Homo sapiens: one gene and its partner. Each later gene encodes a partner of the first gene's protein in a complex. Each region holds a gene or a part of one and is shown on either strand. Other genes may lie near its edges.

What was found. The genes of interacting proteins can lie anywhere in the genome.
Region 2: POLR2E (region 1) and ASDURF share a complex: the UniProt entries of both Homo sapiens proteins name them as parts of the PAQosome complex.

The regions. Positions count from the first base shown.
Region 1 is NC_000019.10:1,086,049-1,092,375, reverse strand, and holds the end of POLR2E (DNA-directed RNA polymerases I, II, and III subunit RPABC1), read left to right. Parts: intron 1-468; coding exon 469-584; intron 585-1,387; coding exon 1,388-1,468; intron 1,469-2,230; coding exon 2,231-2,289; intron 2,290-2,410; coding exon of another isoform or gene 2,411-2,413; coding exon 2,414-2,492; intron 2,493-2,824; coding exon 2,825-2,890; 3' UTR 2,891-2,904; intron 2,905-3,655; 3' UTR 3,656-5,802; downstream 5,803-6,327. UniProt on the Homo sapiens protein: DNA-dependent RNA polymerase catalyzes the transcription of DNA into RNA using the four ribonucleoside triphosphates as substrates.
Region 2 is NC_000002.12:189,657,081-189,664,468, forward strand, and holds the start of ASDURF (ASDURF protein), read left to right. Parts: upstream 1-4,378; 5' UTR 4,379-4,440; coding exon 4,441-4,530; intron 4,531-6,820; coding exon 6,821-6,874; intron 6,875-7,388.

The DNA of each region.
Region 1 (6,327 bases):
GTTTAGAACTGTTGACTTCAAGTGATCCACCTGCCTCAGCCTCCCAAAGTGCTAGGATTACAGGTGTGAGCCACCGCACCCGGCCTCAGGTGATGCTTCTTAAAGAGAGCGTCCTGGGGTGTGAGGTCTGCTTGTTGGAGAGGTTGGTGCTGAGTCACCCGCCTCCCCAGAACTGCCCAGGGTGGGAGCCTCTCAGAGTCGAAGGTCTCTGCTTCTCCCTGGTCTCTGGGTGACTGAGGGGTGTCAGCCCCCTGTCCCTGTCTCCGGGTGAATGAGAGGTTTCAGCCCTCTCTTCCCCTGTCCTGGGATCCTGCAACTCAGGCCTCGTTTTGCAAACGCGGAAGCCGAGGCCCGAGCAGGAGAGACACCTGTGTGGAATGGGGCTGGAACCTGGGTGCTCTGGGCTCTGGGTGGGCGAGGGCCACGAGGGCCCAGGCTCGTGCAGGCCAGCACACTCTCTGTCTGCAGAGGAGCCCAAGGTGGGCATCAAGACCATCAAGGTGTACTGCCAGCGCATGCAGGAGGAGAACATCACACGGGCTCTCATCGTGGTGCAGCAGGGCATGACACCCTCCGCCAAGCAGGTGGGCACCCCTGCCCCACCCCGCCAGCCTCTCCCCCTCCCCAGCCTCCTCCCGCAAGCAGTACCCACAGGCGGCCCACGTGCCTTGGGCTTTGGGCCAGGCCAGCCAGGGTGCCCTGGAGGATGTGGCCGGGATGTCCGGCAAGCCCCGACCGCCTCCCTCCCACCGCGTCCATGGGCCCCACCCCAGGCAGCCGCCGTCCTCCCCCAGCTCTCAGGAGGGGCGTCAGGGCGGAGGGCACTGTGCCTCTCGCCAGCTCCTGTGGGCTCCAGCCCTCGGCCTGGTGCAGATTCCAGGAGCCGGAGGTTCTTTATCCTGAGCTGATGTCCAGGGGGACTTGCAGAGGAGGCCCGGCACGGGGTCCTCCAGGGGCCTATCCGTGTTCCCCGTCTGTCTGTCGGACACTCTGGAGCCAGGCTGCTGTGCTGTGACGGGCAGTCAGCAGAGCAGTTTAGTCCCTGGCCCACCAGCTGTGGGGTTCACGCAGCCACACAGAGCAGCACCCCTGTATGGGGAAGAGGTCGCCCTGCCAGCTCTGAGGGCCGCCCCTGGAAGCGTGTGATGGATGGAAACACATCCGAGTTTCCACGGCCACTTCACTGCTGGATGAGGCTCTCGATGAGCAGAGAGGCTGGGGAGGGGCGGGCTGTTGAAGGCTCCTGGGCTGGCGGTGGGGTTTTCTGATTCACGACGTGGGTGTGTTGTTGGGGCACACGAGTAAGCCCCAGGTAGCTTGAGGCAGGAAATGGGGTTGGGGTTGTCTGGGCCCCTCCGGGCCGTGCCTTAGAGCCGCTCTCTTCCAGTCCCTGGTCGACATGGCCCCCAAGTACATCCTGGAGCAGTTTCTGCAGCAGGAGCTGCTCATCAACATCACGGAGCACGAGGTGGGCGCGCGCCGCGGAATCCCGCCTGCGTGGGGCCGGCAGAGATGCAGCGTTTGTGGGTGGCCAGGAAGATGTGGGATCTGGGGCCCAGGGCAGGTGTTCCTATTAGTGCATGGAGGACAGGGTTCTCAAAGGGTGGCCCTGGGCCTGCAGCAGCCGAACCCGGGAGCTTCCTAGAAATGCAGATCCCGGCCGGGCGCGGTGGCTCACACATGTAATCCCAGCACTTTGGGAGGCCGAGGCGGGCGGATCACGAGGTCAGGAGTTCCAGACCATCCTGGCTAACACGGTGAAACCCCGTCTCTACTAAAAATACAAAAAAATTAGCCAGGCGTGGTGGCGAGCGCCTGTAGTCCCAGCTACTCGGGGAGCCGAGATTGTGCCACTGCACTCCAGCCTGGGAGACAGAGCAAGACTCCATCTCAAAAAAAAAAAAAAAAAAAAAAATGCAGATCCCGGGCCCACCCCAGCCTGTAGAATCGGGACTGCTGGGAGTGTGGAGGGACCCTAGTGCTGGGACAGGAGGAGTCCCAGCAGGAGGTGGCTGTGCCCAGCCCGTCTGCCTCAGAAGCCCCAGGAGCTGTGACTCCGTCCCCCGCCTGTGGAGCCAGGGTGGGGTGGGTGGGCTCCCTGAGTGCCGGGGATCGGGGTGGGGTTCAGGGCTCTTGTCCGTCTGAAGGCGCAGGGGCTGTGGTGGCACCTGGGAGCCACGTGGGGTCTCACCAGCCCTTGGTGATGCCTGGTGGCTTCCTCTCTCGGCAGCTAGTCCCTGAGCACGTCGTCATGACCAAGGAGGAGGTGACAGAGCTGCTGGCCCGATAGTATCCTTTCCAGCCCCACCGGCCCCGCCCCTCCCTGTCCCTCGAGACTTCCGCGTTCCCCCCCCACACACACCCCTGCCCCCCCAACGGCCCTGTCTGGCATTTTCCTGACGGTGCTTCGCAGTAAGCTCCGAGAGAACCAGCTGCCCAGGATCCAGGCGGGGGACCCTGTGGCGCGCTACTTTGGGATAAAGCGTGGGCAGGTGAGCCCTGTGGGGAGAAGGGGCCCTGGGGCTGCTCTGAGCTGACCACTCGGAGAAGGGGGCTTCTGTCCCTCCCCGACAGCCCCTCCCCCTTGATCCAGGGCCTGGAGGGGACCTCGAGACCACACCCCCAATATCCCCCTCTTAAAGCCAGGGCCACTGGGCCCAGAGAAGAGCGTGACCCAGGTTCCCAGGGAGCGGGTCCCACAGCCCAGGGTCAGCCATCTCGGACCCCTGCCGGCCATCCCCAGCCCGTGTGCTGCCCGCCTGCTGTCTGGTGACTGCAGTGAGACCCCTCAAGCATTCGCAGCCCCTGCTCTCTGTCTCTGCAGGTGGTGAAGATCATCCGGCCCAGTGAGACGGCTGGCAGGTACATCACCTACCGGCTGGTGCAGTAGCTACCGCCTGACAGGTGAGACGGCCGAGGGACAGGCACTGAGGTGGGGTCAGAGGCAGGGGTGTCGTCCCCTCCGTCGGTGTGCAGGGCTGTTCTTGCTTTGTCCGGCAGCAAGACCCTCCTAGCACCAGCCCAGCTGGGCCACCAGGCGCTCCCAGGACACCCCCAGACCCCCAGACCCCACCCGACCGTAGGCTGCAGCTCTTGGGGCTGTGCGCCTGGACGGGAGAGTCCTGGTACGCGGGGCGTGCGTCTCTCCGCCGCTGACCCACCTTAGAAGCAGGAGACGTTCACCTGCAGGGCAGTTGTGCGGCGGGACTTTCCAGAAGAGGGTTTAGAAACCTGCCCAGAGACCCCAGAGCTGAGAGAGGAGGCACAGCTTCAGGCCAACCCTTCCCTGAGTGGGCACCTTGGGAGGGACTGGCCGGAGTCTCAGGAGCGGGACAGCCTCTGCCCATGGCGAGAGCCTCCCAGCTTCCCCTGGACTCTGGTCATGGCGAGCTGCTGTCCTGCAGGCCGCCCCACTTCACACTCAGCCCAGGGGTGGGGCTTGGCCTGGTCTGACGCTGGCACGGTTCCTTTGAGGTCAGAGCTACTGCCCACGCCTGTGTGACCGCTGGGCACAAGGGAGCCGTCCGGCCTCTGCACTGCGGCCTGGGCCGCCTCCTGCCAGGCCTCCCGCACCCCGTCACGTTCGGTGGGCGTTGTGCTGTCCTGGGCATACTGGATCTGCCCCTGTCGTGTGACCACTCTCCCCCTTTCCTAGCCCCTAGAGGCGGACACACAGCGACCCCCATCCCTGCAGGACAAACGCCCCTGCCCTGCCAGAATCCGGCCCCCACAGCTCTCACGGCTGCTGCTCCTCTGGACTCCCCAAGGCAGGTGGCCTCCACCCACGTTCTCCCGTCCTGGGGTGAGGCTTCCTGTGGCCCAGCCCGCCCCATTCACCTGTGGATTTGTGCGAGATGCAGCCTCAGAAGGAACAAGGCCCCCAGAGGGAGGTCACCTGGGGGCAGCTGGTGCCGGGTCTTCACCCAGACCACGCTGGGTCCCCTCTGTTGGGGGTTTGGGGTCCGGGTCTCCCACCAGCCACTGCTTCCTCCTGGGCCCTCGGCCTTCCACCCCTCGTCTTCCCTCCCTCGGGGGCCCTGATGCGTGGCGGCCCCCGCCCGGCCTCGGCTCTTTACTCCATTCACAGCCATGCACGCGCTCAAGCCACCAGGGTGCGAGATGCCAGCTCTGGAGTTCTCGGTTGTTGTAGGAGGTTGGGTGTTTTCAAATGGTAAAGATGTTTTGAGCAAATAAATTTGCTTGATACAGAAACCAGGCCGACTAACAAGGTTTCCAGCAGGTGGCCTTGCCTCACCCCAAGCACACGAGGTCAGCCTGGCAGGTGTGCCCTCCTCGCGCTGGCTTCAGGGGTCAGTGTCTCCCCAGGCCCTCGCCCTGCCCTCCCACTTCGTGCTCCTGGGTAAGGCGTGAGCGTGTCTGTCTCTTCCCTTCCCGTGAGGGTGTGGAGTTGTTCTCTGGCTTGTGCAGCTGTGGTTTGCGGCCAGTTCCTCTTACAGACGTTTGGGATCTGGCTCTACTTCCCCGTTTGCTTACTGTCTGATTTCAGAAGGCCTCGCCTGCCCAAGTTTAACCTAGCCACGTGGTTCTCTCACAGTAGCTTTATTAAGATGTAATTCACCCTCGGGCGGTCGGTGGTCTGTAACGCGCCCACTGTTCTGTGCAGCAGGGTCCCCAGATCCCCAGGCCGCGGACTGTGTGTGTGATGGGGACAGTGCTTCCCCTTCTCTCCAAATGTACTTTTTTCAAAATTGTCTTGGCCAAAGCAAGCCAGACCCAAAGGGACAAACACTGATGTCACTCCTAGGAGGTCACTAGAGTCGTCAGAGACTGGAAGTAGGATGGGGGTTCCCGGGACTGGGGAGTTGGGTGGGGATGGGGGTTCCCAGGGCTGGGGAGGAGGGAGGGGACAGAGTGTGTCATGTGCACAGTTTTAGTTTGGGAAGATGAGAAAATTCTGGAGGTGGCCGGGCGCGGTGGCTCACGCCTGTAATCCCAGCACTTTGGGAGGCCGAGGTGGGCGGATCACCTGAGGTCGGGAGTTCGAGACCAGCCTGACCAACATGGCAAAATCCCATCACTGCAAAAAATACAAAAATTACCTGGGCGTGGTGGTGCATGCCTGTAATCCCAGCTACTTGGGAGCTAAGGCAGGAGAATCACTTGAACCCAGGAAGTGGAGGATCGCTTGAGCTCAGGAGTTAAAAGACCAGCCCGGGCAACACAGAGAAACCCCCCACCTCTACAAAAAACTTTAAGATTACCTGGGCACAGTGGCTCACACCTGTAATCCCAACACTTTGGGAGGCTGAGGCGGGAGGATCATTTGAGCCCAGGAGGCCGAGGCTGCAGTGAGCTACGATTGTGCTCCTGTACTCCAGCCTGGGCCACAGGGTCACACCCTGTCTCAAAAAAAAAAAAAAATGCAGTTCCACAGGCGCATGGGCCACGTTTCCAGTGCTTGGTGGCCATGTGGGGCTGACGTGCGAAACCTTAGAGCCGGGGGATACGTCCGTCATCGAGAACGTTTTCCTGGACTGCCCTGGGCTGCAGGTGGACGTGACGAGGTCATTCGATGCCTGACCGTCTGCACAGCCTGTGGTGAAGACCACCCGGGCTCCCACCTCGCGGGGCCCCGTGGCGGGGGGTTCCCTTCCTCACACATCCCTCCCCTAGGGGGAGGCCCAGGGCCACGCCACGGGGCTCTCTCTGTCCCCTCCCTGGCCCCTTCTTCTAAGCTTGCAGCTGCCACAGAAAATCTTCTAAGCTTGCAGCTGCCACAGAAAACACCCGATTAAAAACTTTTTATTTCAGCAAAATAAACGTGCCTGTGAAAGAACCACACGGTGGCTTCCGAGAGACCCCACTGTGTACCTGAGCCCCAGGTGGCCACACCTGGTGTTCTGGAAAAGGGAGTCCAGGGCCAGTATTCAGGCCCTGCTGTACTGCACCCTGGAAACTGCACCAAACCCCAGCTCCGCCCCCATCCACGGCTCCCAGAATGGTTTCTGGAGTCCCTGCAACAGACCTGTGAGGAGAGGGCAGGGCAGGGCCTGCCTCCTGCGTCCCCGTGATGACCTGGGGGATGCACTGGGCAGGGACAGCTTCCTCCATCCACACAGCCCTGTGGGCACCAACAAGGCCACTGTGACTTCACACGACAGCAGTGTTCCCCAGCTCAGCTGAGCCGGGGTGCAGGGGACAGCACAGGGCACAGTCCTGTGCCGCAAGGCCCTCGTGCTCCTGGAAGCCTCTGGGAGGAGGCGCCCGCTGGTGGGACGTCGAAGTCCAGGCGCTCTCGGCAGCGACCCCAGGACGGCGCACCTAAGCTATGCCGTGGTGCAGGGGACGTGCTGGAGGGACAGGAGC
Region 2 (7,388 bases), on another chromosome or scaffold:
CACGCCAGGGCCTGTCTGAGGGTTGGCGATGGGGGAAGGATAACATTAGGATAAATACCTAATGGAGGTGATGGGTTGATGGGTGCAGCAAACCACCATGGCACATGTATACCTATGTAACAAAACTGCACGTTCTGCACATATACCCCAGAACTTAAAGTATAAAAAAAAGAAAAAAGAAAAATAATAGTTTTTATAAACCATTGAACAAAGAAAACTTTAGGCACAGATAAATTCACTGGAAAATTCTATATAATATTAATAGAAGAAATAACATTAATTCTACAAAAACTCTTCCAAAACATAGAAAGGAAGTATTAAAATAATAAATCGGAAGGCCATTACACTGAAGCAGCTCTAGAGCTGAGTGCCTACCTAAACAAACCAAAAGCTAAAAGGTTATATTCTAGGTAAACAGAACTTAGCTTAACCAATCAGAAACCAACAACTAACCTCTAACTAGGGATTTTCCAATGGAATGATCCAAATAAGGCTACTGGTCCACTTTAACCAATCAAATATTTTCTTTGCCTTGCATCCATATTTGAATCTTTGGGAAAGAGGTGGACAGTGGCACTCATATGGAATAGTTCTAGAAGAAGCCAAGATAATTTCGATTAACCTTCTTTATAGCTGTCAGACTATGTGAAGATACAACAGGCATGGGCAGCATATAAAACATCTTTCATTGGTGACATTCACAAACCACACTGACCTCTAGATTGTAAAACAGAACTACCAACAATGAAATTTTCAAATCCAACTGGCAGGAGAGCAGTGGATTGGAAAGAAGACGAATATGCTTAGATGAGGCATGTGAGGCACCTGGGCAGAAAATTTAAAGAGCACTTACTGCAGGACCTGAGAGTCAGTGCATCTTCAAATTTGCACCCTACCACACTCACCACATCCTGTTTCAGCCCTGCACAAGAGCTCCAAAGTGAAGTTGGCTGCAAGCGTCAGGGAGGCCTGATGTCCGCATTCCACAGCTTTGAAGCAAAGCTTGAGAACCAGCCTTATCTCAAGTAAAAAGGATTTACTAATCTCTAGACCAGTACTTGGAAACTCTGCCATTTCCCTTGAGAGACCAAGACCAGCCTGATGTGCTTTGTTACTAGGGCGACAAAGCATTCTCCCTGCGTTCTCCCTGCAAAGAGTTTATGGTAAGGATCCAGTAGTTCCTTTCCCAGATCCTAGAGCCTTGTGGAAAACATCAGTCCAATATCTCAGGCCCTGTCACCTTCTGGCAGAATTATTGATATAAATCACCTATTTAGACTGTGATATTACCTCTCCTTTGACTTCACCCCCTTGGTCCTACAGCCTACCTTACTTCCCCCTCTCCAACCCCCTCCCCCCACCGGCAATTACCAGCACTGTCTACTTGCTGAGATTTCCCTTTGGTCTGCTAGTCTACGCCTCTTAGAAGAGTCTGTAGTTGAGTCTGTCTCCTTTCAAATGACTTCCAGTCTGTCCTACCCATCAGAGTTAACAGAACCATCCAATCACTGTGACAACCAACAGTACCTCCAAACATTTTTTCAAGCATCAGCTAGGGAAACCCCTAGCTCTGTTGAGAATCACTGGAAGAGAAGACATAGTTTCCAGTTGTATGGTGGGCTGCAGATGGGCAGTCCTGAGCCAGTTAGGCATGACACATGGTACTAGCTAACCCCAAAGCTGACTTCAAGCAATGCAGAAGTTAGAGCAGCTGAAGGAGGAAATAGAAGCAAATAGATAAATATTTTTTAAATAAGACAAAGTGTGAAAGCACTTTTAAGACAGTTTAGCACCATACTAAAATTATTATCACCACTTTGTTTAGTACTATTTTGTTTAGTACTATGTTGTCTTGGGCAGCCCTTGTGAATAAACAAAAACATCAGAACCTGGCAGAGCCGTAAGCAACAGCCCACTTCCCAAAACGGGGTGAACAGCTGTAGACCAATCAGCGGTGTTGGGTGTTTCCGGCTACTCGATGTGGACATGATTGTGAGTCAGAACCAATTCAAACTTTAACCAGAGCTCCCACTCTGCCAGACACTATAATAGAAGGTGGGGTACAAAGAAGACCAATAGGCTAGGATGCTCAGTCTCATCAGCTTTACAGATAAGCCTCACTATTACCTCTAAACAAAGTGGAAGCCAGTCCTGGCAGCGCACACCTATAACCCCAGCATTTTGGAAGGCTGAGGCGGGCAGATAGCTGGAAGCCAGGACTTTGAGACCAGCCTGGCCAACATACTGAAACCCCATCTCTACTAAAAATACAAAAATCAGCCGGGCATGGTGGCACACACTTGTAATCCCAGGTACTTGGGAAGCTGAGGCAGGAGAATAGCTTGAATCCAGAAGGCAGAGGTTGCAGTGAGCAGAGATCGCACCACTGCACTCCAGCCAGGGCAACAGAGAAAGACTGTGTCTCAAAATAACAACAACAACAAAGTGAAGTGATACTTCACTTTGGAGCTCTCTTTTTCCTAAACTTGGATTCTTAAAATGTTTCTAAGCTAGCAGTTTTGTAAGAACTTTTTTCCTTAAAAATCTGGCACATTTAAAGTATTGGAAATTCTGGGCTTTTAAAAATATTGGGATTATACCAGTGCTTATTTTTCTCTATAAACTAGTCAGAACAGAGGCCCTTTAATTAGAGATACTATAGTGGGATTTATTAATACACTCCAGAAGTAGGGAAATATTTCATATTTACAAAGGGAGACATAAAGCCTGTTCTAAGTTACAGACACACAGACACATAAAGAGGTTATTGCTTCTGTCTTACAACTTCAATCTCAGGTCAAAAGTAAACACAAAACCACAAAAATTCACCAGTTCTTCTGCTTGAGCGGCCTTTATGTTAAAACAAACAAACAAAACCTTACTAGCCCACATCTCAAATAGCTGTCCTCCTTCCCTCTCAGTGGACACAAAAGTAATTAATTAATTTGAGCTCACAAACAATAAACAAAAAGACTTACAAACTCGCTTCTCTGTCACCTCTCTTATTTATTTATTTGAACCCCTGGCCTCAAGTAATCCTCCCACCTCAGCCCCGAGTGGTTGCGATTACAGGTTTGAGCCACTGCACCTATCTACCTCTCTACCAATGAGACTAGACGTCCATCATCCAACAGATACCACCAAATGGTTAGACCACAAAACCAAACTCCCAATCATTGCTGCTATCAATGTATCAGTAATGTATAAGTTATACCTGAATAACTTATCAGGAATGTACAAATCAGAAATGAAAACACAATCTTTAAAAATCAATTATAAAGGAAAAATATATAACCACTTGGGTTTTCTGTAAGAGCAAATAAAAAACATGCCTGGCCTTAAACAACCCATGATGTATACATTTCTTTCGCCAGATAGTTTGATTCATCACATAAATCCAGTTGGGCATCTCTGTGGAAACTTAAGATTTCCAATAATATAGTATAATTATCAAAAACCTAAAATCATGTCTCTAATGTGAACATAAAATATATACATGTCAAACTTTTATTCAACTCATTGGTTAGTGAGGGAACCGATGACTTTAAAACCAATACAGAATATTAGAGAAGCTAGGCATATGTTAATAAAGAAATGTTAGGACAGAATGCAGGGTTAGATACAAAACTGACTAATGTGTTGCAGAACAATAAATCATAACCTGTGTTGGTATCTGGTACAACAAAAAATTATTTGCATCTCTACCAAACCAAAATCTCTACCAAAGTTAACCTTTGCCCCTACAGAATTGTAAAACAGCCCAGTCAATATAATAAAGTCAAGTCCAGAGCAGCACTGAAAGAGCATCCAGTAAATAAATCTCTTTTGCCTATTTCCAAGTTTTAGTCATTTTTTCCACAGAAATGAGATATTGCAAATATTGCACGGGACATAGATGCACTAAAAAACTATTAATTCATCTGAAGTTCATACTGTATTTTATCCGGCAACCCTAACCACGAGTTAACCAAAACTTTACCAAGTCTGTACAGTTCTTTTGCCAACACGGTATCTCTTAAATCTGTTCCTTAGCTTCATCTTTCCCTAGATAATAAATATCATATTAAGCGCTGTTTCTATTGCACGACTATTCTTCATATTTACCACTGGAGGGCGCACAGAACTCGTAGTATACTAGATAAGAGGTCATGAAGAAACCACCTGAGCGTTTCTGCATCTCAACCACAAGAGGCCAGTACAGGAACCTCAGATTTTGCAACCAGACTGTTTACTCGCTCCCTAAGCAGCCATGCGCAGGCGCGAAACTCCTCCCCAGGCCAGACCCGGCCTGCGCATGCGTTCAAGTGAGCGCGCAGACGCTATTGGTAAGACTCGCGGGAAAAGAAAGGGTGAGCGCGGCTGGAAGCGCGCATGCGCTGTGGCTAATGCCGTAGGCTCCTTCAGGGCTGAGCCATCCCGCGTGTCTTGCGCTCGGTGGAAATGCCCAGCCGAGGGACGCGACCAGAGGACAGCTCTGTGCTGATCCCCACCGACAATTCGACCCCACACAAGGAGGATCTAAGCAGCAAGGTGAGTGTGAGACGCGACGAAAAGGCTCCTGGACTCGGGACCGGGCGCCACTGGACCCTGAAGGTGGTCCGCAGCGGGCAGCGTGGGGCCTGCCTGGGCCTCGGCTTTGCCCTGCTACTTTGCTCTTTTTATTCATAGCACTTGACAGCCACAGTTAGTCCTTTTATTTTCTGAAAACAGTTGCGAAAAGGGAGATCTTGAAATTTGTCCCGAGACTGGACCCAGGTGACAGTGGGGCGGAGTTTTGGTTGGGTGTTTTCCTCCCTAGTCTTTTTAAACTTTTGGAAATACCGCCCACCCCAAATCTGTTCCATCAAAGATATTCTCCATCCAGTTAACCATGCCAGCAACCCGGGGTCCATCCTTGACCCCCATCATGGAAGCCTATCAGTTCTACCTTTGAAGCTCATTTCAAATATGTCCCTTTATCACCGTGAACACTCTTACCACCCCAAATAAGCCACCGTCATCTGCTATCGGGACCCCTGCCCCCGGCAAGGCCTTCCTAAGCGGTCTCTCCTCATCCACCTGTTAGCTGCTGCTTCTCCGTTAACCAGAGCAATGGTCCTAAAACACGCATTGGGTTGTCACTCATACCAAACTGGGGGAGAGAGGAAGCCAATATAATATAAGCCTTAACTGCCATAAACAAACAACCTTTAAAGATAAATGGGGGTGGCGAGGGTTATAGCCCTTCAGGTATTACATGTCCTAGATTCTACTTTGGTTCTGTCCCAAACTTACAATGACATCTTGGGCAAGTCTCTTTAATCTTTCTGTATCAGTTACCTTCTTTGAAGTAAAGTGAAATGTACACCTGTCATTCCTAAAATGGGAAAGCCCTGTATAAATGTTAAGTCTCAAAGAATGTTTACAAATTTGGCCTTGGAATTCAACCTCATTACTACAGCTCTGCCAACGGGGGAGACAGAAAGGTGCACATTCATGGGGATTGGGGGTGAATTTTCAAAAGACACACAGCCCATTCTGATTACCACCATAGCAAGCCACTTACGCATACTGGTGGTTACAGATCCCTGAGGTGTGTGTGAGGTAGCACAAATATGATAAAAGCTGCTTTTAGAGGCTCTTGTGATACTATGTAATCAGTCATGTTCACAAAATAAATAGAGTTAAAAAGAAACTTAGTTTTCACTTAGTTGAGCCCTCCCCTACAAATAAATGAAGCCCAGGCCAGCATGGTGGCCCAGGCCTGTAGTCCCAGCTACTCGGAGGCTAAGGTGTGAGAATCGCCTGAGCCCGGGAAGATCAAAGCTGCAGTGAGCCGTGATCGCACCACTGCACTCCAGCCTGGGTAACAGAGCAAGACCCTGTTTCAAAAAAAAAAAAAAAAAAAAAGCCCAGTTCAACAGTGCCAGCTCTATGCTAGTCATTGAGATAAAAAGAGGGAAAAATACCAAGATGGAACATGATAGGTCTTACTGTCCCCAAATAGGGCATTGCTTGATTTGAATGTTTGACTGCAGCACTTAGTACATAAAATCATGAAAATATTGAAAAAAGTAACCCACCCCTCATTCAATTTGCTTTTTTTTAAATCTAAATCACAACTTAATTTTCAATCTAAATCACAACTTAATTCCTTTTGGTGTATATCATATATATATATTTTTTAAATTATTTATTTATTTATTTTTTTGAGACGGAGTTTCACTCTTGTTGCCCAGGCTAGAGTGCAGTGGTGCAATCTTGGCTCACTGCAGCCTCCGCCTCCCGGGTTCAAGCAGTTCTCCTGCCTCAGCCTCCCGAATAGCTGGGATTACAGGCATGTGCCACTACGCTTGGCTAATTTTGTATTTTTAGTAGAGATGGGGTGTCTGCATGTTGGTCAGGCTGGTCTCGAACTCCCGACTTCAGGTGATCCGCCCGCCTTGGCCTCCCGAAGTGCTGGGATTACAGGCATGAGCCACCGCACCCGGCCTGGTGTATATCATATATTTTTAACAAAAGGTATAAACCTTGTTTAGTAACTGTAGTCCTTGGCATGATTGCTGGTTATGAACACGAAAATCCCTGTCTGGTCTTAATGGGTTACCTAACATTTTGCAAGTCTAATCACTGTTTTTTCTCCTCCAGCTTTTCCTGAACTGTACCCCCACACAGAGACTCCTGTTGAAAATGATCTGTATATTCACAAACTGCCCGTTTGGAAAACCAGTACATCATAGCCCCTTATCCCATCTCTAATTTTAAAACAACCCCTTAAGGGATTTTCATTGAGCATACTTTGAAAACATCTGACTTAAGGAGTTTTTCTTTATTTCAATAGATTAAAGAACAAAAAATTGTGGTGGATGAACTTTCTAACCTTAAGAAGAATAGGGTGAGTTATTATAGGAATTCTGAATAATATGTGGGAGGTTTATTTATGTTAACTATATATTAAAGTTATAAGAAGTATATATAAGATTTAATCATACTTTAATAAAATGTATAGTATTTCAGCATCTTTTAAAATTGCAAGTGTCTAGATTCTTTTTTTAAATGGATAGATCTCATAGCTGAAGATGTCTTTTTTCTATCATATGCCATTCACATTGCCTTTGCAACAAATGATACTAGTTGTATTTTGGTATCTTGGAGCTATAATCACTAATGATGTTTTATACCTGAATTTGATGTTTTCTTTTGATATAAACGAACTTTATATTGAGATGAGAAGAAACTTTTCTTTTAAATGAATGTGGATAATTATTGAACAAAAAAGGATACATTGCTTCCCCTCCCTCCAAAAAATTTTTACATAGATTTTCCTAAATGTGTAACATGGTTATTTAATGCCATTTCCATTAATATGTTACAAACAAGTAAGCTACTGCTTTGTGTATGGTTATAGT